Linked DNA regions of Homo sapiens: regions 2 and 3 are each linked to region 1. Evidence: fine-mapped expression QTL. A gene starts in region 1. Each other region holds a variant in brackets. All regions are shown on one strand. Distances are from middle to middle.

Region 1 (10,312 bases):
AAAAGTGAAGAAAGGGGTTCCTGTCACCCTTGCCACATCTGGAGTCCTGTCTCCAGCCACTGGGAATCTTGAATGGTCACATGGGACACCACTGCTAGTCACATCAATGTCTTTAACATTAATAATGTGAGTTCACAGCTAAGGGCCTGTACCAGAGACCAAAGGCTGATGGCAGCTTCTGGGCCTCATGCTTGCAGGTGGGGGACAGTAAACCTCAGAACAGGTGAAAACCCAGGTAGGCACCCATAGCTGGGGCCAGACTCACCAAGGCTGACCTGGGGACAGGCTCCCAGAGGTTGAGAGCCCTCATGTCATCCACACATAGCAGACATTCCTGACTTACATTAAAAATAGGCTCTCTCCACACCCCCCACATGCACATCTCCCTTCTTTTTGGGGTTAAAAGGATCCAGCGCTTTTATTCAAAGGGCGTCCTATGATTCAGATTTTGTAGAATTCAGAATTCTCAGATTTGAGAGCTTTGAAGACTTCAGAAGGCCATCCAGTTCAGACTGATCCCTCCTTCTATCCAAACAGATCATTAGACTGATGGGAAGATCAGGGAAGACCCTCCAGGCAGTTACTAGAGCTCTTCCTTTAAGCTTCCTTAGCAGTAAACTCAGGCAAACTAATAAGATCCACCTCCGAAGGTCGTCGTGAGGATTAAACCAGATATGCATGTAATGTTCTTAGCAGTATGCCAGACACTCTGCAAATATTCAATAAATGGCAGCATTGTGATTGTCTTGACCATCTTCAACATACAGTGTTTTCTTTGTTTCCACACCACCCTTTTGAGTCCGTCAAGCCTGCAGTTGGCTCACAAGTGGAAGCTTCCTTCCCGGGCTCTGTTACAACATAGGAGGCAGAGCTTAAAGCTCCTTCTAGACTGGCAGGAACCAGCTCTCACCTCCGACAGGGGTGAGGCCAGAGGCGTGGGAAAGCCAGATGGGGTGGCGGATGCCACGGTGCCATGGCCTCCTTCAACCCTCAGGTGTGCAAGGAGGCAGGTGACCTGGGATGTTCTGCAAAACAGGTAGGTTTTCATGCCATTGATTTGATTCTCCTGAAACTTAGCCAGTGAATTTTTAAAAAGGGATAAGCCTCAAAGACAATGTAAACAAAAAATATGTCCTGGGCTTTACATCGGTAAAATGGTCTTTTCCTGCCTCGTGTTTTAAATACAGGCTCAAAACAGCAGGATGAGGAAGGGTGACTGTTAACAGGTACACAGATTCTTTCTGAATTGATAAAAATGTTCCAAAATGGACTGTGTTGAGGGTTGTCCAGTTCTGTGAATATACTAAAACCCACTGAATTGTCCACTTTAAATGGGTGAATTGTGTGGTACTTGAGTTATATCTCGATAAAGCTTCTTTTAAAAGTAGATTTTAAAAAGTATTTCATTATTTTTAGACACTTTCCCCAAACACGTATTACCAACACTGGGAGAGACGTAGAGAAACAGACTGTTTTCAAACCATTTTTGAGTTATTTGAGTTTCAGGTGTGTTTTGTGGTTTTCCTCATTGGCAAAAGTTTACTGTGAGTGAATCGAAGCTTCTTGTCGTGTCGAGGGGACCATACTGAGCCTTGGAGGCAACTAAGCAAAAAGAAGGAAGATGGCTCAAAATAAGGGCCTAAGTTATTCCCTGAGTGCATTCAAAGGAGAAAGATACTAAGGGAGGTCGAGCTAAGCCAGGAGGGCTTCATGGAGGAGGGAACTGAGCTGGAACCTCCAGATTTAATAAAAGTAACAAAAAGTTCTAAGAAATAATAGCAGCGGCCCTCCTTCACCAGGCACTGGCCCTTCCCCAGGCCCCCTGCCTCCTGCACTTCACAGTTCTCCGGGAGACACAAGTGCCATTTGAGGAGGGGGATGTCGCCGCCTGCCTTGCCTGGGCGATCCCCTGCCAGAAGCCAGAGAGCAGGGGCCACTGAGAGCCCACGTGGGCAGCTCCCAGGGTACTGAGGAAGAAGAGAGGCAGTGATGAGGAGATCCAAGCCTGAGACATCCAGCACCTCATGGGGGACTTAGGGTGGGCTGGAGAATAACAGGCGCAAAGGCGTGGGAGGGACAGAGGGGTTTCATCAAAGACAGCAGGCCCTGGCCTGAGAGGTGGGGCTGACTGAGGATGGCCACGAGGTACCCAGCTGTCCTAAGCTCGTGAATGATAGAGGGGTAGGTGGTGTCACCTTTCTCATTAGAATGTGCTGGGCTGTTGTGTAAGTTCTCTTCATTCACTCACTCTAGGTCCTCACTACCCAAGGCGTGGTCCTCAGACATCACCCGGGAGCTGGTTATAAATGGAGAGTCTCAGGCCCCGCCCTGGAGGCCCTGGTTCAGAACCTGCGTTTCAGCAAGAGCTCGAGTGATTCAGGCAGGTCACTGCACTGCTGTAAGTCACCCCCCTGGTTTGGGGATGTGGGAGTGGCTGCTGGCCAGGAACAATCAGTTTCAGGTTTAAACGTGGGATTTTCCACCCTTGCGGCAGGGTAACATTGTATCAAGAACAGGAAATACTGGCTGCTTCTCGCCTTCCTTCGTCCCAGGACGAATGCCCCTCATCAATTGCTGCCTGCTTCCCTGCAGACCCCGGGGATGGCCCCATTATGCCTCTCAACACAAGATGCCTGTGCCTACATTGTGTCCATTTGAGCTGGCAGATGTATATATAAGATTGCTCACTTATAACTTTTGGCAGAAATATAAAACTCAGGGATTATCAGAAAACAAATCCTATAACTGTCTTACATACAATCACTTATACCCATGCAATGCCACGGCCAGTAAGGAAAGAGGGAACTCAGCGTGGAGGTCAGGGCACAGGGAAATGACACGACACCTTTGAAGGGTAAGCCCCGAAAGGTCAGTCTGTGTGCTGGGGGTCCCGTGGACACATCTGTCCCTGGGCATCCCTCCAAAGATGAAGGCTGAATATGTCCCTTGAGTTTGGCGTCGAAGGATGGGCCCAAGAGGCCAGAGGACACGCAGCACAGGGAGACAGAAAGTCCTTCCAGACAGAGAACAAAGCCACCAGCTCTTGTGCAGAAAGGTGAACTGCGACCTCAGTAGGCGGTGCTCATCTGTCACAGGTGTTTGTTTGAGTTTGACAATGTGGGGAAAACAGTAGTTCTGTTCTTTCTTTGGTTCCCAAGCATATCTGAACAATTATTCTTATTTTTTAAGCATGTAAGAGCTAAGTTTCACACAGAAATGACAATACCGATAAAGCCATGTGACTTTGACGATTGTGGAAATGGGTCAGTGGGTGAATTTAAGTTCTTCTTCCTTATTTAAAACACTACACTTGAGTTGGATGCTTCAGTCCCCTAGTGTACTTTGTTGAGAGAGGCAAAGATCCAGTTCTGAATCTGTGCTCGGATGGCTCTGGGCAAATTGGAGGACGCGATTGAAAGATGCAGTTGTTCCAATTCATGGTGGCTCGATTGAACAATGACGGACCTGGACCTGGACCGTGCAGGTACCTACAGGCCCTGTGAGTGGGCCTTGGGAAAATGGAACAAAGCAATCGCATGCTGCCTCTGATCGGATTGCTCTCAGTGCCAAGTGCAGTATAGACAGAAGCTAGCAGTGGGTGCAGGGCAGCGTGGCGTGCTGGGAAGGAGCTACCATGCCGTCTTGAGATGTTGCTGGCAGATCCTCAGTAGCTTCAGACCCTGCTGGCTTGAGATGATGCCTGCAAAGCCTCAGTACCTTCAGACCCTGGCACTGACACACCGGAGAGTCACTGGGTGGGGGGCGGGCTCTGCGGCTCCCCATGGTTCGGGTTTTCCTGGCTCAAATGGAGATCACGGTTGTGTTTCAGGTAGGGCCTGGCACTGAAAATGCTTGGTATGGGTGGAGGTTGTTCTTTTTACCCACACATGATCTTTAAGATTGTGCTAGCGCATCTCACAAGACATTTGCTAAAACTGAATTGTATAACTTGCTTTGTGTTCAATGAGGAGGGAGCAGCCACACTGGAGAAAGATTTCAGCCATGACTACTGTGTATCACACATGAAATCCTGGCTTAAGGCTGTAGGACTCCATTACGCTGTTCCATGCACACACTACGTCTTTGCAGGTATCATGTCATTAGGTGTGATAACAGCTCAGCATTTTTACATTCTCCAAGCTATCATCATGTGCAAGGCATATTAGCTCCTCCTAGCCCAAAGCCAATAGAAATGTCAGTATGGCCCAAGGGGTGCCTGAGAATTTAAACCATGACACTTGAAGCAGGTCTAGGAGAACCACCCTGGAGGAATGGGCTGCAGGTGCAGCCTCTCCTGGATTTACAGGCTCATTCCCCAGTGGGCATCATCGTGGCTCCCACCTGGGTTCATCTCTTGAATCAGTTCTCTCTTCTGCATGGGTATCTGGGTATCCCTTGCAGAGTGCACACCTTTTTTATTTTTTGACATGATTTCAGATGTGCAGAAGAGGAGCACAAAAATCTCAAGATACCCTTCACCCAGAGTCCCCAAAATTAATATTTACCATATTTGTTGCATCTCTCTCTCTCTCTCTCTCTCACACACACACACACACACACACAGAGAGGAAGTTGCAGACAAGATGTGCCTTTACTATTAAATACTGCTGTGTGCATTTCCTGAAAACAAAGGGATTCTCTTCTGTAACCACAATGCAATTAACAAAACCAAGGATGTGGCATTGACACAATTCTATTAGCTACAGACCTCATTCACGTTTTTTCAATTGTCCTAAGACTGTTTGAGCCAAAAGAATATCCAAGATCATGCCTGGCATTCTGTTGTCGCATCTCTTTAGTCTCCATTAAGCAGAAAATCTTGAGTCTTTGTCTTTCATGACATTGATGTTTATTTTGTAGAATGCGTCACCATTTCAGGTTGTCCGAATTGTCCTTGTGGTCAGATTCACGTCAAGACTTGGGGCAACAACACCAGGATGTAATGTCCTCATCACATATATTGATCACGGGGCCTGTGGTGTTGATTTAGCCCGCTGCTGGTGGTAATACTTGGGTTATAGTTTTTGTACTGTAAAGTCACTATTTCACCTTATGTAGTAAGTTACAAGCATCTTACTAGGAGATCTTTAGTTAATTTTCCAAAGATTTAACGTGGAGCGAGGAACTCAATCAATGTTGAGCTCCTCTGAGAATCTAGCCCAGCAAATCCCAGTAGAGTGCAGACCCGGGCTGTGGGGAAGGCACAGGAGAAAACCTTTGAGGGGCCTTCAGGCCGGAAGGAACTTTAGCTACTCACCAGGTCTGCCCCCTTTTTGGCAGAAAGAGAAACTGGGATCTACAGGAGGGGCGTGCCTAGGGTACAAGGCAGAGAAGGGCACAGATGGCCAACTTCACCCTCTTGTGCCCTGGGATGATATAGGTTCCTCACATCACAGTAAGAGAGGACTTGCACCCTTCTGCTCACCAAGGGAACAAATGCAAACTAGAGAACTTGTGGGCATCTTAGACAGGGCTTTCATCTTTTTCTTTTCCTCACCCTCCTGATCATCCTCTGGTTCCTATTATTAAGAAAAAAAAAAAACCTGTCTGTCTATCCAACTGTCTTGCTATCTCTATCTGTGTATCCTTCTCCATAGCCAACCCTTTTTTATTTCTACTATGTATATATTTCTATACATCTGCGTCTATATCCACATTGCAATCTCTCTCTTTCTCTTGGTTTTCTTACCTTTCAATGTTAATTGCTAAATGGGAGTAGAGTGAACAACAATAAGAGCAAAAATATAATTTCCTTTACCTTTGCAATAACATTCATAAGGTATTACTGGGAAAACATTAAAAATGGGACCCTTGTTTGAAAGTAGCAGGCAGGAAACACCAAGAAGCTAGAGAAATTCTCTTCAGAAGCCCCCTCTGGCCCACTGAGGGTCACCTTGCTAGAGGTCATCCCTGTCCCTACAGTGGCATCTTGTATAGTGTAGGGCACTGGCTGGGTGCCAATCCCGAGTTGAGTGTTGTCCGATGCAGACACCCTTGGCTGATGACCTCAGACTTGCCTCGGAACCCTGGCTTTATGACCCAACTGTGTGCTATGGTCCAAATGTGTGTGTCTCCCTCAAATTTGAATATTGAAATTCTCACCTACAATGTGATGCTATCAAAAGGTGAGGTCTTCGGGAGGTGAGTGGTTTGTGAGGTAGAACCCTCATGCATGGGAATAGTGCCCTTATGAAAGAGCCCCAAGCCCGGGCACGGTGGCTCACACCTGTAATCCCAGCACTTTGGGAAGCCAATGTGGGCGGATCACCTGAGGTCAGGAGTTTTAGACCAGTCTGACCAACATGATGAAACCCCATCTCTACTAAAAATCCAGAAATGAGCCGGGCATGGTGGCGGGCGCCTGTAATCCCAGCTACTTGGGAGGCGGAGGCAGGAAAATCGCTTGAACCCGGGAGGCAGAGATTGCAGTGAGTGGAGACCATGCCATTGCACTCCAACCAGGGCAATAAGACTGAAACCCCATCTCAAAAAATTAAATAAATAAAAATAAAATAATAAAAAACGCCCCAGAGAGGCCCCTTGCCCCTTCCAGCATATATGGACTCTCGAGAAGGTGCCATCTATGAGTCAGGAAGTGACCTTCACCAGACACTGAAGTGGCCAGGGCCTTGATCTTGGACACCCCAGCCTCCAGAACCGTCAGAGATAAATCTCTGTTGTGCATGGGCTGCCCAGTGGATGATATTTTGTTACAGCAGCCCAGGTAGACAAAGACACCAAGTTTTCTTGTCATGAGATCTGAATGAATAATTCGCTGTGTGTGGTTTGACACTGCAGTGGCTTTTCTGACCCTCCACCTGCCACAATCTCCTTCCTGGATTAAACTCCTTCTCCTGTACATGCCGAGATGTTTCTGTTCCCCGGTTGTGTCTTGACCAACAGTCTTCACGAAGTCTTTCTTTTCAAGCTTACTCTGTCATGATTTTGGTGTCTGGTCATGCCCGGAAATGGAATAGAAAGACCTAGGATTCTCCCTTCACCCTAAGGGAAATCCTTGCTTCGCTGAAAATGGGTGAAGCTGTGGGCTGAAAAAATATGTGTTCCTTCTTTATCTGGCTTCTCTTCACTCAGCTTCTCTGTTCAGTCCCTGCATTATTCATTTTTGGTGCACTTCCAATGATGTCTTATTTCACAATCAGCCGTAATACTGATCATAGAAACTTTTGTATGTGCTGCTTTTTGTGCAATAAATCTCTATTTCAAGCAGTACTCCAGTGACTAGCTAACAGGCTATCTGTTTCACAGCTATGTAGGATAATTGAGGCCTACTATTACTTTGAGGTTTAATTTCTGAACCTAATTGTGTGTGTGCATGCGTGCAGGTGCGTGTGTGTGTGTGTGTGTGTGTGTGTGTGTTCGGGGGAGTCTGTGCACCCATGTGTGTGAACCCAGAATCATACAGGAGACAGGTGAATTGGTTGGCGTCTTTGAGTGGTGGGCTTGAAGGCACACAGCCTTCCTGGTTGACCTTAGACCGGTAAATTCAGGCCTGTTAAATTTCAGGTAAGGTCACTGCCATTTAAGGAGATCTGTTTTGCTTGAATATTCTGACTGTCAGTCCGCAGACATAGGGAGTGTGTGAGTGTGAGTGTGTACCAAGATGAGGAGGATAATCAGGCTCCGGCTCCGTTTTTCTGACACTTTTATGGCTGCCTTTCTTCTGTGCCTGGGCTTCGTTCTCATGCTCTTTCCCTCGTTGTTGCGGGATGGTGGCAGCATCAGCAGCTGCAGAAACTCTTGTTCATTTCCTAGCTCCGAGGAGCGTCATTTCTCCAACTTGGAATAAAAGCCCATCCTCTACCTGATTGGGCCACTCAGATCAAGGGCTTAACACTAGCAACAGTTGCTAAGGCACTGCTAGAAACCGATTAGCTGAAGCCTGGGTGTCTGAACCAATCATTGCCAAGGGGGCGGGACTTGCCCCATCCCTGGAACTATGAATGTCTCAGCCCCTTGAGATCACCTGGGCGTGGAAGAAAGTTGAAAAAAGAAATCAGAATTCGCTTAGGATGTAGGAGGTAGTGTGGATGCTGGGACAGCGACCAGTGCTGTCTACTGTAATTCCCAGTTTGGTGATGAGCAGCGTGAGGCTCAGGAGGATTAAATTTGCCTAAAGTTGCAGCTGGCCAGTCAAACATTGGAAACCAGATGTATTTTGGCTCTAAAGTCTTGTGGGTTTTCTTTGAACCCACAACTACTCTCTATAGATTGGGGACGCTGTGCCAAGCAGCTTTGTAGACTACCAATTACTCAGCCAGCCTGGGAATCGCTGCAGCATTATTGACAATAGCCAAAAGGTGGAAGCAACCCACGTGTCCATCAGTGAATGAATGAAGAAAGAAAATGGTGCATCCAAGTAATGGAGGATTATTCAGCTTTAACAAGGAATGAAGGGTGGGCACCTGCTACAACATGGATGAAGCTTGGGGACATTCTGCAAAAGAGACAGTCACCAAAGACAAACACTGTGTGATTCCACTTTGATAAAGCACCTAGAGTAGGCAGAATCATAGAGACGGAAAGTAGAAGGCACCGGACGCAGCGGCTCACGCCTGTAATCCCAGCCCTTTGGGAGGCCGAGGCAGGTGGATCTCCTGTGGTCAGAAGTTTGAGACCAGCCAGGCCAACATGATGAAACCTCGTCTCTATTAAAAATACAAAAATTAGCTGGGCGTGGTGGCATGCGCCAGTCATCCCAGTTACTCAGGAGGCTGAGACAGGAGAACTGTTTGAACCCAGGAGGCAGAGGTTGCAGTGAGCCAAGATCGTGCCATTGCACTCCAGCCTGGGCAACAAGAGTAAAACTTCATCTCAAAAAAAAAAAAAAAAAAAAAAGAAAAACAAAAAGAAAAAGATAGTAGAAGGGTGATTGCCAGGGACTTATGGGGTGGAGATGGGGAGTTATAATTTAGTGGGGACAGCGTTTCAGCTTAGGAAGATGAAAAAGTTCTGGAGGTGGATGGTGGTGATGGTTGTACAATAGTATGAATACAGTCAACACCACAGAACTACACGCTTGAAAGTGGTTATTGTGGTAAATTTTGTTACGTATATTTTACTACAATATAAAAAAAAAACAATTTTTTAAAAAGTTGTGCTCCAGAGAAAGTGGGCATTTTAACTTCTGCGTGGAGGGGTTTGGCTACAAGGTTCAAAACATCTGTCATGACTCTGGAGCCTCCGAAGCCTCCTAACTTCACTGGCCAGTGATGTCCGCTGCCTCTTCCTCTCTTGAATGTCATCTGGAAAAGTGAGCGGTGATATGTGGAAACGCTTCTCAATGCTCTTCCTGACAGCAATAGTTGGCCTGACACTAGAATTCTTCTCCACTGTACACTGACCCCCGTTGTGTGTCTGTTACCACCACGTTACTCGCCTACATTTTTAGCAATGTGTGACCTTGCACGTTTCCTGCCACCCTGCGCTCCTGACATGAGTAGTCTTGCATCTCTCTCCCCAGCCAGACAGCATGCATGGGCCAGAGTCATGTGCTTGGGGAAAAGGTGGGTTGTATCGACTCCACAACCAGTCAGAGTGCAGTGGGCCCATGTTTTGTAAAACATATGTTTGGCAAATGACTCCCTGTGGGTTGCAGAAATCCAGATGGGGGAAGTTTTCTAAGTGTGATGTCAGAATGTTACATCTGCTGATCCCACGGGTGCATGGGACCAATAAGAAGACGTGAGTTGGTTTGTCCGAGAAATTGCACGGCGTGGAGATCTGGGGGGCACATTCGAATCTGGAAAACAAAGGCCATAATGTGCACAGCCCTCTTTGGGCTTGCGTATTGTTAGAGCTAGGAGAAGTCTTAACATTGCCTAAAAGAGCTCCCAATTTTATGCACGAGGAAACTGAGGCATGGGGTGGTGGGTAAGGTGAGTTGCTCAAGGCTGTCTAAGGCTGGAACTTGAACCTGGGGCTCTGTAGTCTCAGCACAGCACCCTCAGCCCCATCACGCTGGACTAAGGCAGAGATTAAGGTTCTGGGTGTAACGTCAGACTGCCTGGAGGGCTAAGGCTCTGTTCCATCTGCTGAAAAGCTGTGCCACCCTGAGCCTCAGTTTCCTCATCTGAAAGCAGGGATTACAACAGGGCTTGTAGGTAGGGGTGTGTGTGCTGGGGGTGCTAAGTGATAGTGAAGATGATGAGTGTGAACAGGTGATGGACAGCAGCATGTGCCCAACACCGTGCTCAGCATTTCATGTCCAAATTCTCACTATGCTCACTCAGCCTCCATGCAGCCCCACAACATGGGTACCACTATCTTATCCTCTCCCATTTAATAATGAGGT
Region 2 (10,312 bases), 18 kb after region 1:
TCAATGTGCGTTTTACATAAGCAATTCTAGTCATGGTCCTGTGGCTGCTGTAACAAATCACCTCAAACTGGGGCGCTTAAAACAGCAGAAATGTATTATCAGTCTAGAGGCCGGAAGGCCAACGTCAAGGTGTCAGGGCGGGGCTCCCCCAGGAGGATCCAGGACCCTTCCGGCCTCTTCCTGCTCCTGGGGGCTCCAGGCGTCCCTTGGTTCGTGGCTGCATCGCTCCAGTCTCTGCCTCCGCCCTCACGCGGGCTCCTCCCTGCGCGTCTCTCCTCCTCTGTCTTCACCTCATTGGTATGAGGACACCAGTCACTGGACTTAGGGCCCGTCCTGCTCCAATATGACTTCGTCTTAACTATTTACCACTGCAAAGAACCTATTTCCATATGGAGTCACCTTCTAAAGTTCCGGGTGGGCATGAACTTCTTGGTGGACGCTATTCAACCCATAATAACAATGAAAAAGTTTTTTTTACTTCTACAGGACCTATTCTATGCTAAAATAGTTCTTTTTTAAATCTGAAATTCAAATATTACAAGACATACTAAAAACTATTCATTTTTACCTGAAGTTCAAATATTGCATGAGATGTAGATATTAAAATTATTTATCTGAAATTCAAATATTGCATGGGATATACTTATACTAAAAAGGCATCCCTATTTTATCTGGTAACTCTCTTCCTGCGTCCCCCCGCGTCCGTGTGTGTCCTGCCCCTGTGCGGTTCTGCCGTCTTTCAGGCCTCCGTGTTTCCGTGGGAGAGAGAGAGAGCGCACAGGTCACCCACCCCCGGGGCACTGCAAGTGTTAACCGCCCTCCCCCACCCCCACTGGCTGCAGGCCCCAGTCCTGCGGGTGTGAGGAGAGCTCAGACTTTGGAAACTGAATAATGCTGCTCTCGCCTTCCTGCATGGGGGTAGGGAAAGGAAATGCTTTAGTGAGATTGCAAAGCAGGAAAAAAAAAAAAGGTCAATCAGTAACTCTTTTCTCTGTATCCATTAGAGATTGCTGGTGAGACAGCAGCCACTGCTCCCAGGCCCGACAACAGGGGCAGCACCAAAGCTGGTCAGTGTTTCCTCCTTACAGGTAAGGGACGTGGGGAAGAGGAGAGAACTTGACGGCCTTGCTTATTAATTCAGAAAATGTATTAAGGTTGGGTGTGTGGGGGAGTGTGCAGTGAGCAGATAGGGAATCCACAGGCTGTGACCCAGATCCTTGTTTGGGGCAGAGAGACCCGGGCACAGGCACGTAGCACACGGCGTCGGACGGCTCCTGTGCCCGGTTCTGTGCAGAGCCCTGAACAGGACAGTTCTCACAACAGCCCAGCAGCCTCAGTGAATGTCCTGTGGACACCTGAGGGACGCTGAGAGGTAGACCATGGTCCTCAAGGTCACGCAGTTGCTAAGTGAGGGAGTGGAAGTGACTGACTCCCCTGGCCTGACTCAGAACCCACAAACGCGGAAATCCAAACTTCTGAGGCTGTTCCTTCTCTTGGATGTGCATGTATTTCTTCGTTCCTTGAGTAATGATTGCATTTTACTATGGGCTGGAGGCTGAGAGAGGCTCAAGGCCACATGTGGTAACATCACACATGGCTCCAGACTCAACAGATAATATGACAGTCCTATTGCACTTCTAGAAATTCAGGATAAAAAAATAATAATGTGCGTACCCAGGGAGAAAAAATGACAAAGCACCCATCACAAATATTTATGCCCCAAATAACATACCCAAATAACATGCTTTACCATTTTTGTAAGAAGCAAAAATTGGTTAAAAGTACAAAAAGGAATAGCGAGAAACACCACGAAAAGGGATTCTCTAAACTTTTAAACGATCAGGTAAAATGAAATTTGTTTATTAAGTTGATGTCTTGGTCTGTTTTCTGTTGCTATAACAGAACACCTGAGACAGGGTAATTTACAATGGAAAGGAATTTATTTCTTATAGTTCTGGAGACTGGGAGGTCTCCAGAAGGGGCAGCATCTGGTGAGGGCCTTCCTGCTGGTGGGGACTCTCTGCAAGGTCCCATGGGGGTGCAGGAACTTACTTCTTACAGTTCTGGAAGCTGGGAAGTCTCCAGAAGGGGCGGCATCTGGTGAGAGCCTTCCTGTTGGTGGGGACTCTGCAAGGTCTCATGGGGGTGCAGGCATCTCAGAGTGAGGAGGCTGAGCCTGCAAGTCAAGCCCTCCCTTTCTCCCCTTGGAAAGCTGCTCCTTCCCACCCTCACGACCTCATCTAATCCTAATCACATCCCAAAGCTTCCAACTCTCCAATAGCAGAGGCAGATTTCCTATCCTCTTACTGTCACCATGGGGATTAAGTTTCAACAGGAGTTTGGGAGAGGACAAACATTCAAACCTTGGCAGTTGACTTAATGGATACAAACAAAAGTTATATTACAAATGGAAATTCAAGGGTGGTGTCAACACAGATGCCACCTTCTCCCCCTTGTTTTCAGGGACTAGGCTTTATTTCCAACCTTGGCCTTCTCAAGGAGACTAGTTGAAGGCCTGCCATCCTGGAGGGACCTGGCCAGCCCCAGCCCCAGCCCACCCTGACAGCTCTAGAGCTGTCCTTCCGTTAGATGGCCCCCTATACCCTGAAGCCTTAAACGACACCCAACACCATGATCCTACTGGATAGTGCCCTAAAATGCTCCTGGGTCATTTCATGCCTGGAAGGCAGGAGGAAGCTAAAATCCCACCGTTTTCTCCACTTGTTGGACTGTCTGCCCCATGAGGGAACAAAAGCTCCATCGACGAGCGTGGATCCAGAAGCCCAGGCAATCAGGCTGGAGCCTTCCTTACTTCTGCTGTCTGCAGTGACCACTCTGGATTTGGGATCCAGCCTCCCTGAGACTGTAAACATCTGGGTGAGAGCCAGCCGTGGCTGAGCCCATAATTACTGGCTGCAGCCTCCCTACGGCGGCACAGAGGAGGTGGGTGGAGAATGGTTACCAGGGCCTGTGTGATATGAGTCCCTAAAAACACTCTCAATCAATGGGCAGATTGAGCCTTCTCAAACCATGTCACATACCAGCATCTGTGACATGTGGTCCAAATCAAGTTGGCTTAGCCTTCCATCTGGAAGGATATCATTAGAGGTAGTTGAAACCAGGAAACTTCACACCAAAGACATGAGTCCACAGTTTGAGACAATGTGGTATTCACTTCCAGCTCCATACAGTCCTTGGGTAAATGGTGGCTTAATGTTTGGCCTCAGAAGACTTTGCTCTTTTACTAGAGGCTAAATTTGTCCCCGAGTGCCCATGGCCCTGTGGAAAACTTGGGCTAAGACTTCAGATATGACTTAACTTTTGGTCAAGATACAGACATGCATTCATGCAAGTAAACAGACGCATGCCTGTGTGTCTGCCGCATGCAGGGGGTGGTGGGGAGAGGAGAAGGAAACCCACAGTTTCTCTGTTGTTTCAGGGACCTGTTTCAGGCCTAAAGTTTCCTAAAACAGTCATGCACGTGTTTGTTCTCCATTCTCACTTCACTCTGAGCACTGTGAGTCCAGCTTCACGGCAAAGCCCTGTGTGCGGTGAGCAGTGGTTCACTCCTGGCTTTTGTACATGCAGGTCTGAAGGTGCTGCAGAGGAGGGTGCTTCCCAGAGATCACCCCTGTGACAGACAGATCGATTGAAGGACCCCTGAATGGCTGAATTGAGAAGAACAAGCATATTAGGAGGCCATACAATGGGAGCCTCTCAGGCAGACAGACAAAGCCGTGGAAACTGCAGACTTATTTGTATGTTCTGGTAAACACCTTTGCTTCATTTTCCCCGTCTCCGCCTGGACTGAGGGTCACCTCACCTCTCCTGGTGTCCAGAGCCTCCTTCAGGACAGATGTTGCAAACCTGAGTTCTCACAAACAGCGGGGTCCAGCCCTTCTCAACACTGGAAAGCCCTTGAGCCATCTTTGATTTGTGTGTTTTGATCTAATTGCACTACTGCTTGCAATGCTTGTTTTTAGCGGTGAGTGCTGGTTTAATTTGTTTCTTTCTGGTCTCCCAGCCCCACTCCAGAATTTTGGCTCCTGGAGAGGAGGGGCCCTGAACTGGCATTTTCAGTGAAGCATCCCAGTGCCTTGAATCCAGTAAGCAGCCAGGTGTCTGTTGGCTTCATGGTTTAACAACCTACCATTTGAAGAATCGCAGAGATGAATTAAAAAGAGCCCCGGAGAGGCTCCCCGATCCAGTTGCACTTCCTGCTTAAGCAAAGTAAAGAAAAACAGGAATGAAAACATAACCCAATGGGTTAGTTCCATGCTGGCCATTGATGAGGTTGCAGCCACCATCAGAAGAAGGCCAAACGGTTAGAAAGACACGGCGGTGAGGAAGATGAGCCTCATTATCGACTGTCACCTGCAGCCCTGCACAGGTGCTCAGAATCTAACACTTGATGGCTGGTTGAGATTCCCGGAGTCCTAATTAGGAATGAGGAGTCAGGCTGGCAGGACCCAGGGAAAGCAAAAAGAGAAGGCAGAGAAGCTCCAAGTCTGCCTGTCTTCGTGATCCAGAACACGTAGTCCTGCTGCACAAGTAACTCACAATCTTCCTGTGTCCAGCTGTCATTAGACCCTTGGCTGATAGAAAAATGCAAGTTAGCACACTGCAGCCTCGGTGTCGTCAGTACTGCACGTCACTCTCTCCAGCACACCGCGGCCTCGGCGTCATCAGCACTGCACGTCGCTCTCTCCAGCACACCGCGGCCTCGGCGTCGTCAGCACTGCACGTCGCTCTCTCCAGCACACCGCGGCCTCAGCGTCATCAGCACTGCACGTCGCTCTCTCCAGCACACCGCGGCCTCGGCGTCGTCAGCACTGCACGTCGCTCTCTCCAGCACACCGCGGCCTCGGTGTTGTCAGTACTGCACGTCGCTCTCTCCAGCACACAGCACAAGCACCATCCTATCAAGTCCCCAGCAAGCCTTTGTCTCCTTGCAGTCAGCTCCTCTCTTGCTGGCCTGCCTGTTGCCTCCTTGCTGTGTATTTTCCTACTTTCTCTAATTTGCCTTTTTTTTTTATTTTTGAGATGAAATTTTGCCTCAGCCTCCCAAGTAGCTGGGACTACAGGTGCGTTTCACCACGTCCATCTAATTTTTGTATTTTTCGTAGAGACGGGTTTTCACCATGTTGGCCAGGATGGCCTTACCTCAAGGACCTCCTGATCCGCCTGCCTCGGCCTCCCAAAGTGTTGGGATTACAGGCATGAGCCACTGCACCTGGCCTAAATCTGCCTTTCTTAACCTACAATTGTCTTTACCCTGAGCCGCTGGCCCCAGATAGTCGCTGCTCACCCATGACAATATTTCACCACTGAGATCATTTATCCTCAAAAAAATGAGTAGAATGGCCACGGAATTGTGTGCAAAGAATGAAGGAGCAAAACAGTCTTGGAGTCTTAGGAGCAAAACATCTGCATTACTAATATCCTCCCAAGTCCACCAAGCCTCAGCTAGGAACGGTTCCCCACTTGTGAAGTGTCTGATAAGTTCTAGTTTCCTTCCTTCCTTTCTTCCTTCCTTCCTTCCTCTCTCTCTTCTTTCTTTCTCTTTCTCTCTTTCTTTTCTTTCTCTTTACCTTTCTTTCTTTCCTTTCTTTCTATCTTTCTTCTCTCAATCTTTCTTTCTCTCTCTCTCTTTTTGACAGTCTCACTCTGTTGTTCAGGCTGGAGTACAGTGGCACAATCTCAGCTCACTGCAACCTCTGCGTCCCAGGTTCAAGCAATTCTCCTGCCTCAGCCTCCTGAGTAGCTGGGATTACAGGCTCTCGCCACTACATCCAGCTGATTTTTGTATTTTTAGTAGAGGTGGGGGTTTCCCCAAGTTGGCCAGGCTGGTCTCGAACTCCTGACCTCAGGTAATCCGCCCACCTCAGCCTCCCAAAGTGCTTGGATTACAAGCGTGGACCACCACACCTGGCTCATTGATTCATTTATTCATCTGATAGGTATTTATTGAACATAAAGTGCCACAGACCGGGTGGCTTAAATGACAGAGATTTATTTTCTAACAGTTCTGGAAGCCGGAAGTCTGAGATCAAGGTG[C/G]CGGCAGGACTGCTTCCTCCAAGCCCTCTCTTTTTGGCTTGTAAGAGCTGTCTTCTCTCTGTGTCCTCACAAGGTCGCCCTCCGTGCGTGTCTGTGTCCTCATCTCCTCTTATTACGGAGACACCAGTCCTACTGGATTAGCTCCCATGCTGGTGACCTCATTCTACCTTAATTACCTCCATAAATGCCCTATCTCCAAACACAGTCACATTATGACATCCTGGGGGTTGGACTTCGACGTGTGAGTTTGGGGGGATGCAACCCAGCCCACAATAAACAGCAAATACGATTAGAGCTTCTCACAGATACAAAGCCATTGTCGTGCAGCTCATGCCCTCCTCGGGGGAAGAAGCCAGTAAGTCACAGAGATCAGTAACGCAGGTGGGGACGAAGGTGTAGAGGAGAGCCAGGCACGGAGGCCTGTTGGAGTGCGGGTGCTTTGCAATTTTAGAAGCCGAGGTCTAGGGGAGGCCGGACTTGAAAGACGACGTCTGGGCCAAGTGCAGAGAAAGGTGGCGGATGAGCTGGAAGGAAGCCTGGGAGAAGGCACTTTGGGCGTAGGGTTTTGAGACACAGCTGTGTTTTGCCCGTGGCACGGGAGCTCTGGGGCCGGCATGGCCCGTGTGGCCTAGGTGGAGGTGGGAGGGGAGGCGGGAGAAGGGGTGCCCTCGAGATCTCGGGAGGCACTGGCCACGGAGAGCCCTCGGGCTGTTACTTCTACTATTGCCTTTTACCAGTTAAAAGCATCCTCCCATGCAAAGGCTTGAGAAGGATACAGTGGACTCTGGGGACTCGGTGGGGAAGGGTGGGAAGAGGGTGAGGGATAAATGACTACGAATTAGGTGCAGTGGATACTGCTCGGGTGATGGGTGCGCCAAAATCTCACAAATCACCACCAAAGAACTTACGTAATCAAACCCCACCTGTTCCCCAAAAACCAATGGAAATGAATTTTAAAAACAAAAACAAAAAGCATCTCCTCAACATTGTGTTCGAAGAGAGGCAGCTGCCAGGACCTCGCTGTTCCTCACCCTCGGAAGCCGTGCCTCTTCTCTGGGCCCTTGGTCTGGCATCCCCGGCCAGTGCAGCCCCTTCAACCGTGGGGTAGGTGGCGGGCGGAGGGGCCAGCCTGGCTGCCTGGCATCCCCATGGTTCCTGTAATAAATAACAAGCCTAACTGACAAATTTGCTGTTTTCTTATACGACTGCCACGCACACTACAAAGTGTGAGGCAAACCGCAAGTCATCGGCATCACAGCAAAACAAAAACACACACACAACAGAAGAAACCACGCTGGTGAGGTCAGCAGGGTAAGTTCTGCCTTGTAGGGTTTGCTGGGAAAAAAAAAAAAAAAAAACGTGGAGAAGGAGACGTGGGGGCGGGGAGGGCTGAGGTCAGAGCCAATATTGAAAGAAATCTATTTGTGGCTGTGGGAGGGATGGGGACGGCGGCAGGAATTTAAAGAGGCAGAAGTTCATTTCCTGTGATTTATGGGACTTTGCTGACTTTCACGCTCCGGTTCTAGGGACAGGGAGACCCTCCCTGCGGGAGCCGCTGCTAGAGGGAAAGGCAGCGTTGGATCGGATGCCGGCCCCAGCCTGGGAGACGTGCTTCCTCTGCAGCCTGTGATCAGGAGCGAAGTGTAGAGACCAGAATCGTTCAGAGGCAGGGCTGGTCCCTGTTGATTTATGACTCAGGCAAACAGTCCATTCATCCGTCAGCGGCTCCACTTCTATCCTCAGCTTACTGGAGGCAGAAGAATGTCCCCTGGAAGTGGTCTGAGCTGCTTCCTGTGGTGGCCCCATTCCTCCGGGTGGGGGATCCTATTTTTAGAGGGCCACCATTGCCATGAAGGTCCAGCCGGCTCATCGGCACCGTGCGGCATGGTGGGACGCAGTACTGAAATTCGAGGGGGAGCTAGGCATTCATAGCTGTTTCTTACAAACAAGAAAGGCACTGATTCTGAGGCTCCATTTCCTCCTCTGTAGGTGGAAGATAGAGGAGGCTATACAGGGAGGCTCAGCTGTGCCTGACACACAACAGAGATTCTCCAGGAACAGGACATGAATGAATACAAAATCAAATAGGTGATTTCCCTCTTCCTCCAGCAGACAAACCCAGAATAGCAAAGATCACTTCCATGCGCGTCCGTGTGAGGAGACCACACAACAGGCTTTGTGTGAGCAATAAAGCTGTTTATTTCACCTGGGTGCAGGTGGGCTGAGTCCGAAAAGAGTCAGCGAAGGGAGATAAGGGTGGGGCCGTTTTATAGGATTTGGGTAGGTAAAGGAAAATTACAAAGGGGGTTTGTTCTCTGGCGGGCAGGAGTCGGGGTCGCAAGATGCTCAGTGGGGGTGCTTTTGGAGCAAGGATGAGCCAGGAAAAGGACTTTCCCAAGGTAATGTCATCAGTTAAGGCAAGGACCGGCCATTTACACTTCTTTTGTGGTGGAATGTCATCAGTTAAGGTGGGGCAGGGCATATTCACTTCTTTTGTGATTCTTTAGTTACTTCAGGCCATCTGGGCGTATATATACGTGCAGGTCACAGGGGATGCGATGGCTTGGCTTGGGCTCAGAGGCCTGACATTCCTGCCTTCTTAATAAGACAAATAAAACAAAATAGTGTTGAAGTGTTGGGGCGGTGAAAATTTTTGGGGGGTGGTATGGAGAGAGAACGGGCGATGTTTCTCAGGGCTGCTTCAAGCAGGATTAGGGGCGGCGTGGGAACCTAGAGTGGGAGAGATTAAGCTGAAGGGAGGTCTTGTGGTAAGGGGTGATACTGTGGGGATGTTAGAAGAAACATTTGTCGTATAGAATGATTGGTGATGGCCTGGATACGGTTTTGGATGAATTGAGAAACTAAATGGAATAAGAGAAGGAGAAAAACAGGTATAAAAGGTCTAAGAATTGGGATGTCTCAGGACATCTGATTAGAGAGCGCCTAAGGAGATTCAGCATAGTCCTGCCAGCAAAGATTATTTATTTACTTCAAGAGTTAAGAGTGGCAGTTTGGGGATAGCACCAGGAGATATCAGCTGTGATGGCTTGAAGAAACAGTGTAAACCGGCAGTGTAAACAAGAGCAGGGCATGTATGAGTAGTTGAGAACGGTGAATAGGAGTATGGCTAGACAGAAGATAGTAGGGATGACAAGTTTTTTTGGGGCACAGTCTAAGTTGGTCTGGTGTCTGGAATGAGACTGGGGCCTAATAAAAAGGAGCGTCTATACAGGAGCTTAAATGGGCGGTACCCTGTAGCATTCCGAGGACAGGCCTGAATTCTGAGAAGGGAAAGTGGTAAAAGTATTGTCCAGTCCTTTTTAAGTTGGTGGCTGAGCTTGGTGAGGTGTGTTTTTAAAAGACCTTTAGTCCATTCTACTTTTCTTGAAGACGGAGGACCGTAAGGGATATAAAGGTTTCACTGAATACTAAGAGCCTGAAAAACTGCTTGGCTGATTTGACTAATAAAGGCTCATCTGTTGTCAGACTGTATTGAGGTGGGAAGGCTAAACTGAGGAATTATGTCTGACAGAATGGAAGAAATGACTGCGATGGCCTTCTCAGACCCTGTAGGAAAGGCCTCTACCTATCCAGTGAAAGCATCTCCCTAGACTAAGAGGTATTTTAGTTATCTGACTCAGGGCATGTTGAGTAAAGCTAATTTGCCAGTCCTGGGTGGGGCAAATCCTCGAGCTTGATGTGTAGGGAAGGGAGGGGGCCTGAATAATCCCTGAGGAGTAATAGAATAGCAGATGGAACACTGAGAAGTTATTTTCTTGAGGATAGATTTCCACGATGGAAAAGAAATGAGAGGTTCTAAGAGGCTGGCTAGTGGCTTGTACTATAGCATAACCTGCCTTTGCTGGTGTGTGGCGATTAGGCCTGGTGGAACCGCCATCAGTAAATCAAGCGTGATCAGGGTGAGGAACAGGAAGGAAGGAAATTTGGGGAAATGGGGTGAATGTCAGGTGGATCAGAGAGATACAGTCATGGGGGTCAGGTGTGGTATCAGGAATAATGTGGGAGGCCGGATTGAAGTCTGGGCCAGGAACAACGGTAATTGTGGGAGACTCAACAAAGAGTGAGTACAGCTGAAGGAGCCGGGGAGCAGAAAGTATACGTGTCAGGTATGAGGAAAAGAATAGATTTTGGAAGTTATGAGAACTGTAGAGAGTGAGTTGAGCATAGTTTGTGATTTTGAGGGCCTCTAAAAGTATTAAAGCAGCGGCAGCCGCTGCACGCAGACATGAGGGCT
Region 3 (10,312 bases), 34 kb before region 1:
GTCACCCAGCCGGGAAGCAAGTGAGCTGGGATTCCAGCTGCCTCTGCTGGGCTTCTTTTTTCCCATTGCCTTCAGGGAAGGGTGACTGTCGTGGGTTAAATGTTTCCCCCCAAAAAGACTTGCTCACATCTGAACCCCCGGTACCCACGAATGTAACCCTATTTGGAAAAAGGGCCTTTGCAGATGTCATGAAGTTAAGATGAGGTCATCCTGGATTGACAGTGGGCCCTAAGTTCAGTGCCAAGTATCCTTATGACAGTCAGAGAAGATGACGCAGACACGGGACAGAGCAGGCCGTGGGGAGACAGAGGCAGAGGCTGGAGTGACACAGCTACCAGCCAAAGAGCACCAAGGTTGGCTGGAGCCCCCAGCAGCGGGACAGAGGCGCAGAACATATGACCACAGGAGCACCTGGAAAGGACCAAACCCAGCAACAGTTGAATTTGGACTTTTAGCCTCCAGAACCATGAGAAAGTAAGACTCTGCTGGACTGTGGCACGCACCCGGAACACCCATCCAGCCGCCCTGAAGGATGCAGGCCTCTCCGCCTTTGGTTCTCCTGTGCCTCTTCAGGTATGAGGGGTTCCAGCACCAGGCTGGCCCTGGCAGCCGGGAGCCAGGTCAGTGCCTTCCAAACATCCCTGCCCTCCACCACATGCAGGGGCCTTCCCAAAGGGAGAGGCTGCATTGCTCAAGTCTCCAGCAGGTCCTGGGCACGTGTATGTCCCTTCCTCCTACCCATGCTCATCCCAGGAGAGCCATGGCTCAACTATTTGACAAAAACGTATAGCACATCCGTGGGGTGCCAGGCCCCACTGCAGGGCAGAGGACAGTGAACACGACCAAGTTCCTTTCCTTGAGTGTGTTATGTGGGAGGGTGAGAGAGAGGGAACAATCAATGAATGAAGCAAAGAGAGGGAGGAGGAGGGAAGGAAGAAAAGAAGGAAGGAGGGGAGAAGGAAAAGAAGGAAGGAGGGAAACAAGGGAGGGAGAGAAGAAAGGAAGGAAGGGAGGGAGGGAGGGAAGGGAGGAAGGAAGGAAGGAGAGAGGGAGGAAAGAGGGAAGGAAGGAGGGAGGGAGAGAGGAAGGAGGGAGGGAGGGAGGAAGACCGTTCCATGCAGTGATAAGCAAAAGGAAGTGAAACCAAGTCTGTGGAAAGGTGGAGTGTGCTGGGAGGCTGTGGAGGAAGACTGTCGGGTGGGGCCGTGCACTGTGCCCACGTGGAGGCGGGCACCCCAGGGGACCCTGCGCTTGCTATTTGACTGGATTCTCACGGCAGCTCTCAGAAATCTGCACCATGACTCCGATTTGACTGATGGAGACCCAGATACCCAGAGAGATTAAGCAGCTCCGGCCAGGCCATGGCTTACATTCCAGCTCCCTCTCACTGGGTGACAACTGGCTCCCTCTGTCCCCCACGTGGTAAGAAAATCCACAGCCTTCTTTGATTTTGTTCATAAGTCTTGGGGTTGACTGGACTCAGCCAGCACTTCTCCCTCAGGGTCCTCAGGCCAGGGCAGTGAGACGTGCCAGGCTGGGGCATCTCTCGGGTTCTTCCCTCACAAGGCTGGAGCCCAGCTGGGAAGACCCAAAATGGCCGGTGTTGCAGCTGCTGGAGGTTCTCTCTCCATCTTCCTCTCCCCACCTGTCTCCACCTCTCCCTCTTCCTCCCTCTCTCCACCTCTCCATCTGCCTCTCCCTACCTGTCTCTTCCTCCCTCCACATCTCTCTTTGCCTCTCTCTTCGTCTTTCTGTGTCTCCCTCCATTTCTCTCTTGTCCCTCTCTCTATGTCTCTCTCTCCATCTCTCTGTCTCTCTCTTCATCTCTCCCTGCCTCGTTCTCTCTCTGTGTGTTTCTGTCTCTCCCTCCACATCTCTCTGTTTCTCTCTCCATCTTTCTGTGTCTCCCTCCATTTCTCTCTTGTCCCTCTCTCTATCTTTCTTTGTCTCTCTCTCCATCTCTGTCTGCCTCTTTCTCTCTCTGTGTTTGTCTCTCTCTCTACATCTCTCTGTGTGTCTCTCTCCATTTCTCTTTCTCTCTCTCCATCTTTTTTTCTCTCTCCGTCCATCTTTCTTGTCCCTTTCTCTATCTCTTTTTGTCTCTCTCTCCATTTCTGTTTCTCTCTCTGTGTCTCTGTTTCTCTCTCTCTCTTTCTCTCTCTCTCTCTATATGTATATATATGTGTGTATATATATATGTGTGTATATATATGTGTATATATATGTGTGTGTGTATGTGTGTGTGTGTGTGTATATATGTGTGTGTGTGTGTGTGTGTGTGTGTGTGTGTATATATATATATATGCCATAGGGTGATTGGATGTCTATTGTGGCAGTGGGAGGCTCCCAGAGTGAGTGTCCCAAGAAACTTGGGCAGAGGTGGCCTGGCCTCTCCTAGCCCACCTGGGAGGTCACACAGCAGCATGTCTGTCATGCCCCACTCAGGATGCAGCTGCAGAGCCTCGCCCTGTACAGTGGGGTAGGGGTGGGGCTGCCCCTCTCCATGGCAGGAAGGTCACAGAAGGTGCTATGGGTTTTACATTCTCCCCAGCTCGGCCCCACCCCATATCATGCTCATCAGCCCTCCCCTTCCCACAGCTTCTCACACCCCCCACTCTCCCCGTCTCCAGCAGGGCTTCACGTCCACCTGCTTCCCTGAGAGGCAGTGAGATGCTCTTTCATGGAGCGGGCCAGCTGGCATGGCCTCAGAGGCCTCCTCACCACAACTGGGCCTGCTGGACCCCCGCCCCCTGGGCCGGTCCTCCCCAGCTATGAGAATACAACTGCACACCCAGGAAGGCCAGTTTGGGCAAATTCCCGGGATCCATATTCTTCCTGAGACATGGCTGCAGAGTTGTCAAACTTCCTGAAGAAATATTTGTTATAACTAAAGTGTATTTTGGGTGTTGGAAATATAAACTTTGGTGCTTGACCAGGTGTGACCATAGACTAGTCCATAATGGGATGAAATGCACAGTCCGTGGATTTCCACCACAGGTTTATATTTTTAACATTTACAACCAATAAATGTTGGCTCCAACATCAACAGAAGAAAAGGAAGACCATAAATCCTTCCTTTCCAGTAGTAAAGGGAGTGGAATCCCAGACCATAACCCTTGCTATCATATTTTAATAGCCACTGCTAATGGAATGCTTACCACATCCAGATTCTGCACTGAGGTTTTGCATTCATCATCAAAGTGGGTCTTTCAACAACCCCATTATTATTCCCATTTTGGAGAGAAGAAAACTGAGGCTTAGAGATTGTTAGTCACTTGCTCCAGGTCACATGTTAGCAAAAACCAGAGCCGGCTCAAGAATATCCCTGTCACTAAATGGACATCCCATATTATCACATCTCTGTCACTGAAGCTTTTCTGTAAGGGGCAGAATATTTCAAAAGCTACACATCCGTTTTCTCTGCAGAATGTGATCAGAATGCTGCACCTTCGAAAAAATTATTTGTGACATGAAACTGTGGTACTTGGCTGAGAGTTTTGAGAAAAACAAGAGTTGGTAGGTGGATTTATTTTGAAGGTTAGCCTTCGACAAGGTTCAAGTGAGCTAGTTCTCTTAGAGAATTCCTTAGACAAGAGGAAAGGAGGAAGAGCGAGTGTCCTTTGTTTCCAGGGAGATTCTGACCAAGAACACACTAGACAAAACCAATGGGCCAGGTGTAGTGGCTCACTCCTGTAATCCCAGCACTTTGGGAGGCTGAGGCAGGCGGATCGCTTGAGGTCAGGAGTTTGAGACCAGCCTGGCCAACGTGGTGAAAGCCTGTCTCTACTAAAAATACAAAAACAAACAAACAAACAAAATAGCCGGGCGTGGTGGCAGGCACCTGTAATTCCAGCTACTTGGGAGGCTGGGGAAGGAGAATCGCTTGAACCGGGGAAGCAGAGATTGCAGTGAGCTAAGGTCGCACCATTGCACTCCAGCCTAGGCAACAGAGTGAGACTCCCTCTCAAAAAACAAAACAAAAACAAACAAACAAACAAAAAAACAATGAACCCAAAAGTTGCTTCTTTGAGAAGATCAATACAATGGATAAACATCTAACCAGGTTGATCAGGAAAGGGGAGAAAAGGCACAAATTACCAATTATTAGGGAAGAGTTTTTTTTTCTTTTCTTTTCTTTTTTTTTTTAACGGAGTCTCGCTCCATCGCCAGGGTGGAGTGCAGTGGCGTGATCTCGACTCACTGCAACCTCCGCCTCCCAGGTTCAAGCGATTCTCTGACCTCAGCCTCCCAAGTAGCTGGGACTAAAGGCACATGCCACCATGCCCAGCTAATTTTTTGTATTTTTAGTAGA[C/G]ACAGGGTTTCACCATGTTGGCCAGGATGGTCTCGATCTCCTGACCTTGTGATCCGCCCGCCTCGGCCTCCCTAAGTGCTGGGATTACAGGCATGAGCCACCAAGCCTGGCCAGGGATGAGATTCTTTTTTTTTTTTTTTTTTTTTTTTTGAGACGGAGTCTCGCTCTGTCGCCCAGGCTGGAGTGCAGTGGCGGGATCTCGGCTCACTGCAAGCTCCGCCTCCCGGGTTCATGCCATTCTCCTGCCTCAGCCTCCCAAGTAGCTGGGACTACAGGCGCCCGCCACTACGCCCGGCTAATTTTTTGTATTTTTAGTAGAGACGGGGTTTCACCGTTTTAGCCGGGATGGTCTCGATCTCCTGACCTCGTGATCCGCCCGCCTCGGCCTCCCAAAGTGCTGGGATTACAGGCGTGAGCCACCGCGCCCGGCCCGAGATTCTTGACATCACTGCAGATCTTACAGACAACTTGGGGAAAGTGGACAAATTGCTTGAAAGGCACAAACTACTAAGTTAACTCATGAAAAAATGGATAACCTGAACAGTCCTATCTATGAAAGTAACTATATTTGTAGTTAGAAACCTTCTCACCAAGAACACTCCAGGTCCATATGGCTTCACTGATGAATTCTACCCAGGCTTTAAGGAGACTAACGATTCCAAGTTTACATAAACTTTTCCAGAAAACCAAAAAGGGGAGAGCACTTTCTCATTCATTTAATGAGGTCAGCATTATCCTAATACCAAAGTCAGACAAAGCAATTACAAGACAAGAAAACCACAGGGCCATATTCCTCATGAACAAAGAAGCAACAATTCTAAATAAAATTTTAGGAAATCAAACCCAACAAAGGATAATGCATCACATGTAAGTGAGTCCCAAGAATGCAAGATTAGTTTATTTGAAAATCAATCAATGTAATTCATCATCGTGACAAACTAAACAAGAAAATCATGGCTGGGTGCGGTGGCTCATGCCTGAATCCCAGCACTTTGGGAGGCCGAGGCAGGCGGATCACTTGAGGTCAGGAGTTTGAGACCAGCCTGGCCAACATGGTGAAACCCTGTCTCTACTAAAAATACAAAAATTAGCTGGGCGTGGTGGCACATGCCTGTAATCCCAGCTACTTGGGAGGCTGAGCAGAAGAATCACTTGAACTAGGGAGGCGGAGGTTGCAGTGAACCGAGATTGTTCCACTGCACTCCAGCCTGGGCGACAGAGTGACACTCCATGAAAGAAAAAAGAAAGAAAGAAAAGAAAAGAAAAGAAAAGAAAAAAGAAAAGAGAGAAAAAAGAAAATCATGATAATCTAATAGTGGCAGGAAAAGCATCTGACAAAACCCAACATTCATTCCTAATTTAAAAAAGTCTGAGAAAACAAGGAATAGAAGGACATCCCCCTCATTTTGAAAAACACAGTCACAACTCACCCAGTATGAAATAGATAATTTCAATAGTCCTATAAGTACTTTAAAAATTAAATTAATAATTTTTAAATTACCACAAAAGAAATCTTGTTCATATGGCTTTACTGGAGAATTCTACCAAATGTTTAAACAAGAATTAACACCAATTTTATACAGTCTCTTCTGAGAAATACATGAGATGGGGATACTTTGCAGTTCATTCTGTGAAGCTAGTATTACACTAATACAGAAACCAGACAAAGGCAATAAAATTTTAGTCTAATATTCCCCGTGAATGTAGAGGCAAACATTCTTGAGTATATATCGGCAAACAGAATTCAGTAATATATAAGAAGAATTATACACCATAACCAAGTAGGATTAATTCCAAGGATGCAGGCATGTTTCAATACTCAAAAATTATGAGTATTGAACATAATCCACCCTACTGACAAGTTAAAGAAGAAAAATCACATATTCACATTAATCAATGCAAAAAACAGCATTGATAAAATTCAACATCCGTTTGTGATTTTAAAAAAAGCTCAGAAAAATAGAAATAGGGGAGAAACTTCCTGACTTGACAAAATGCAACTACAAAAAGCTACAGATAACATTATACTTAGTTGTGGAAGACTAAATGTTTTCCCCCTAAGATTGAGAACACAGCAAGAATGTCCACTCTCCCTACTCTTATTCAGTGTAGTGCTATAGGTTCTAGCCAGAATAATAAACACCAAAATTAAAAATACAATTCCACTTATAATTGCTCAAACGATGTAGTAAACGTAACAAAACACATACCTTGTATGCTGAAAAATATACAATGTTGATGAAGGAAATCAAAGAAGGTCTTAATAAATGGAGTGATATACTGCATTCAGGGATTGAAAGACTCAACATAGTAAAGAGGTCAATTCTCTTCAAATTGATATACAAGTTTAATGCAATTAATATCAAAATAACGGCAGAATTTTTTAACAGATGGACAGGGTTATTCTAAAATTTATTTGAAAATGGAAAGAAACTAGGTAAGTTCAAATAATTTTGAAAAAAAGAAGAATAAAGTGAGAAGAATCAGTCTCCCCAATGTCAAGGGTGACTACATAGCTACAGTAATCAAGAAGGCAGTGATAATGGTGGAAGGATAGACATATGTCAGTGGAACAGAATAGAGACTCAGAAATAGAACCACACCAATATGCCCAACTGATTTTTAACAAAGATGCAATTCAATGGAGAAAAAAAGAGACTTTTCAACAAACAGTGCCAGAGAATAGCACATAGGCAATAAAATCAACATCTATGTAAGGTTCACATCTTATACAAAAATCAATTCAAAATGTATAATGAACTTAAATGTAAAATACAAAACTATGAAACTTTCGGGAAAAATGTCTTAGGAATATAGGCCTAGGCAAAAAGGTCTTAAGACTTAACACCAATAGCACAATCCACAAAAGAAAAAGATTGATAAATTCAACTGCATCAGAATTAAAAACTTTTGCTCTTGAAAGATACTTTTCTAAGGATAAAAAGAAGATCCACAGAGTGAGAGAAAATATTTGCAAACAACATATCTGAAAAAGGACTAGTATCCAGAATATATAAAGAACTGTCAAGACTCAGTTAAACCAAACGATCCAATTAGGCAAAAGACATGACGAAACATTTCACTGAAGAGATTACACCGATGGTAAATAAGCACATGAAAAAACACTGAACGTCACCAGCCTTCACAGAATTGAAGAGAGTTAGGGCCTTGCTCCAGATTAGGCTTTGGCTCAAGGCAATGTTGTAGTTAGTTTGATCTTTTATTCAGACCGTAAACCTTTCACCATATCAGCAGTAAGGCTATTTCACTTTTTTATCATTCATGTGTTCACTGGAGTAGCACTTTTAATTTCCTTCAAAAGCTTTTACTTTGCATGCACAACTTGACCAACTGTTTGGTGCAAGAGGCCTAGTTTCAGCGTACCTTGGCTTCTGACATGGCTTCCTCACTAAGCTTAATCGTTTCAGCTCTCGGTGTAAAGTGAGACCTGTGACTCTTCCTTTCACTCAAACACTTACAGGCCACTGTAGGATGATTCCTTGACCTAATTTCAATATTATTATGTTGCAGTGAATAGAGAGGCCCAAGGATAGGGAGAGAGATGGGGGAAGAGCCAGTGATACAGTTAGAACACACAAGCCATTTATTGATTAAGTTCACTGTCTTATAGGGGCATGGTTCATGGTGCCCCAGAACAATTACAATAGTGACGAAGCTCACCGATCGCAGATCACCATAACAGAAGTAATCATAATGAAACGGTTTGAAATACTGTGAGAATTACTCAAATGTGACAGAGCCATGACATAAGCACGTACTGTTGGGAAAATGGCGCTGATAGACTTGCTCCATGCAAGGTCTCCACAAACCCTCAGTTTGTAAGAAACACAGACAGTAAAGCACTTAAATGCATAATAAAACAAGGGAGGCCTGCACACTCCAGTAAAGCTCTTTATTTTTATTTATTTATTTATTTAATTAATTTATTTATTTATTATTTATTTATTTATTTATTTATTTTAAGATGGAGTCTCGCTCTCTTGCCCAGGCTGGAGTGCAGTGACGCGATCTCGACTCACTGCAAGCTCCACCTCCTGGATTCATGCCATTCTCCTGCCTCAGCCTCCCTAGTAGCTGGGACTACAGGCGCCCGCCACTGCGCCAGGCTAATTTTTTGTATTTTTAGTAGACACAGGGTTTCACTGTGTTAGCCAGGATGGTCTCAATCTCCTGACCTCGTGATCCGCCCACCTCGGCCTCCCAAAGGAGTAAAGCTCTTTAAAAAAGAAAGAGTCTGGACAAGTAAATGTTGCCCTTTTAGAGTTTTTTGCTTTTCTAACAGAAAGAGACGTTAGAGACCGTCTAACCTCGTTGTTTTCCAACTGTGTTTCTTGGAACCTGAGGTGGACTATGATTTGCAAAGATGTCCGCAATCATACCCTGATGCCTGTAGGCTCTCCCACAACATGGTCTTGCCTCACCTGTTACTGAGAGGGAGATCTGTGTTCCCTGTGGTTGAATTTGGTGGCCCTTTGACCATCGATAGAATGTGGTGAAAGTAAGGCTGTGTGACTCCTGTGACTAGGTCACATGGGCCACATGTCTTCCACCTGGTTCTCTGGAAACTCTTGCTCTGGAGGAAGCCAGCCACCAAGTAAGAAATCTGACAACCCTGAGACCGCCATGCTGGAGAGGCCACATGTGGATGCATTGGCTGACAGCCCCTGCATCAACACCAGCCACGTGAGCAAGACACCTTGGACACACATGCGGCCTGTCAAGCCTCCAGCTGCCTGCAGTCCAAGCCAACACCTGGCTGCACTCTCTTGAGAGACTCCAAGTGATGATTGCCCAGTCAATCCCTCTCTAAATCCCAGCCCACCAAATCGTAAACAAAGTAAAAGGGCAATCGTTTGATAGCACTGATTTCTGGGGTAATTGGTTACGTAGCAATAGTAACCAAACTAGACCATGCCAGGGATCCCTGGAAGGCAGGGAGAGGGCAGGGTGAGAATCTTCATGGTGGGGGTTCTGGTAGCCTCCCTCCCTCCCTCCCTACTTGCTCAGGTGAGAGGAATTCGATTTGTTGGAGGAAAGTTCCCCTGGTCTCACCTAGCCCCTTCATTTTGGAGATCAGGATACAGAGGCAAAGCAGGGAAGTAATGAGCTGAGGTTTACAAGGCTAGGACGTGAACATGCCATTTCTCACCCTAGAATCTGGCAACTCCAAGTCCAGGGCTCCAATCTGAACATATCAGCTGGCCATTGGGAAGTTCCCAAGTCAATTCTGGGCTTTCTTAGTGCTCCCACTGTAATCTCAATAACACAGATGTTTTTTCCAATTCAAGTTGTGAATCTTAAAGCAAATCTGTCAATTAGAAGAGAGTCATCAGGTTCTGTAGTTAAGGTCTTCCAGTGCTAATTCAAGCAATCTGCTTTCCATCTAGCAGAAGCTACACCCCACATGTGTGTCCTGTGTGATTGTAACTTTGTTTTTAAAGCACTACCTGGGGAAGCATTTCTTATAAAAATTGTCGAAACAACGTAACACTCTCACCCACATGTATTTCCTTTCAGTTTCAACCCATCCAGTCCTGGCAACTCCTATAAGCATCTGCTGTGTTACTTTTTTCCTTCTTCTCCTTTAATGCCAGGGACCTCGTGCTGGGGACCTCGGTAGACCAGGAAGCCACAGTTGGGAATGCATTCAGAGACCATTAGTTCAGGAAGCACAGTGAAATCCAAAGAAACCATGAACCAGTGAGTTGGGAAACACTCTATGAAAGGCCTTTTCAGGCAGTTTCTTTCAGGAGGAGTTTGTTTTTGGATTAAAGGAGTTTATTCAGGTATTCACAAATACCCAGGCTCTCGGCAGCAGCTGGAACGTGGAAAGCCCTCAGTCATAATCAATGGCTGTAGAGCAGACTGGCATGTTCTGCTTGAGCAACACAAGGATGAAAGGGGCATAATTAGGGGACACGCCTTCAGAGGAGATGAAAGGCCCAAGACATCCTCAAAAACGGAGGCAAAATATACCCT

What was found. PIP is the estimated chance that this variant, and not a neighbour inherited with it, causes the effect.
Region 2: its variant is fine-mapped to the expression of LINC02188 in testis (GTEx, PIP 0.98).
Region 3: its variant is fine-mapped to the expression of LINC02188 in aorta (GTEx, PIP 0.97).

The regions. Positions count from the first base shown.
Region 1 is chr16:86,716,007-86,726,318 of GRCh38, forward strand. LINC02188 (long intergenic non-protein coding RNA 2188) reads left to right here and starts at 6,085. Exons shown (of 3, transcript NR_135183.1): 1 at 6,085-6,125. LINC02189 (long intergenic non-protein coding RNA 2189) reads right to left here and starts at 5,953. Exons shown (of 2, transcript NR_135181.1): 1 at 5,759-5,953; 2 at 4,678-4,997.
Region 2 is chr16:86,733,822-86,744,133 of GRCh38, forward strand. It overlaps LINC02188 (long intergenic non-protein coding RNA 2188), which reads left to right. Exons shown (of 3, transcript NR_135183.1): 2 at 1,005-1,088; 3 at 3,589-4,005. Among named protein-coding and RNA genes, the nearest start is that of LINC02188, 17 kb to the left of the region's middle. RefSeq lists an enhancer at 8,466-9,212. The variant C/G (reference allele first, on the strand shown) is at 6,058.
Region 3 is chr16:86,682,153-86,692,464 of GRCh38, forward strand. No RefSeq gene overlaps it. Among named protein-coding and RNA genes, the nearest start is that of LINC02189, 35 kb to the right of the region's middle. The variant C/G (reference allele first, on the strand shown) is at 4,313.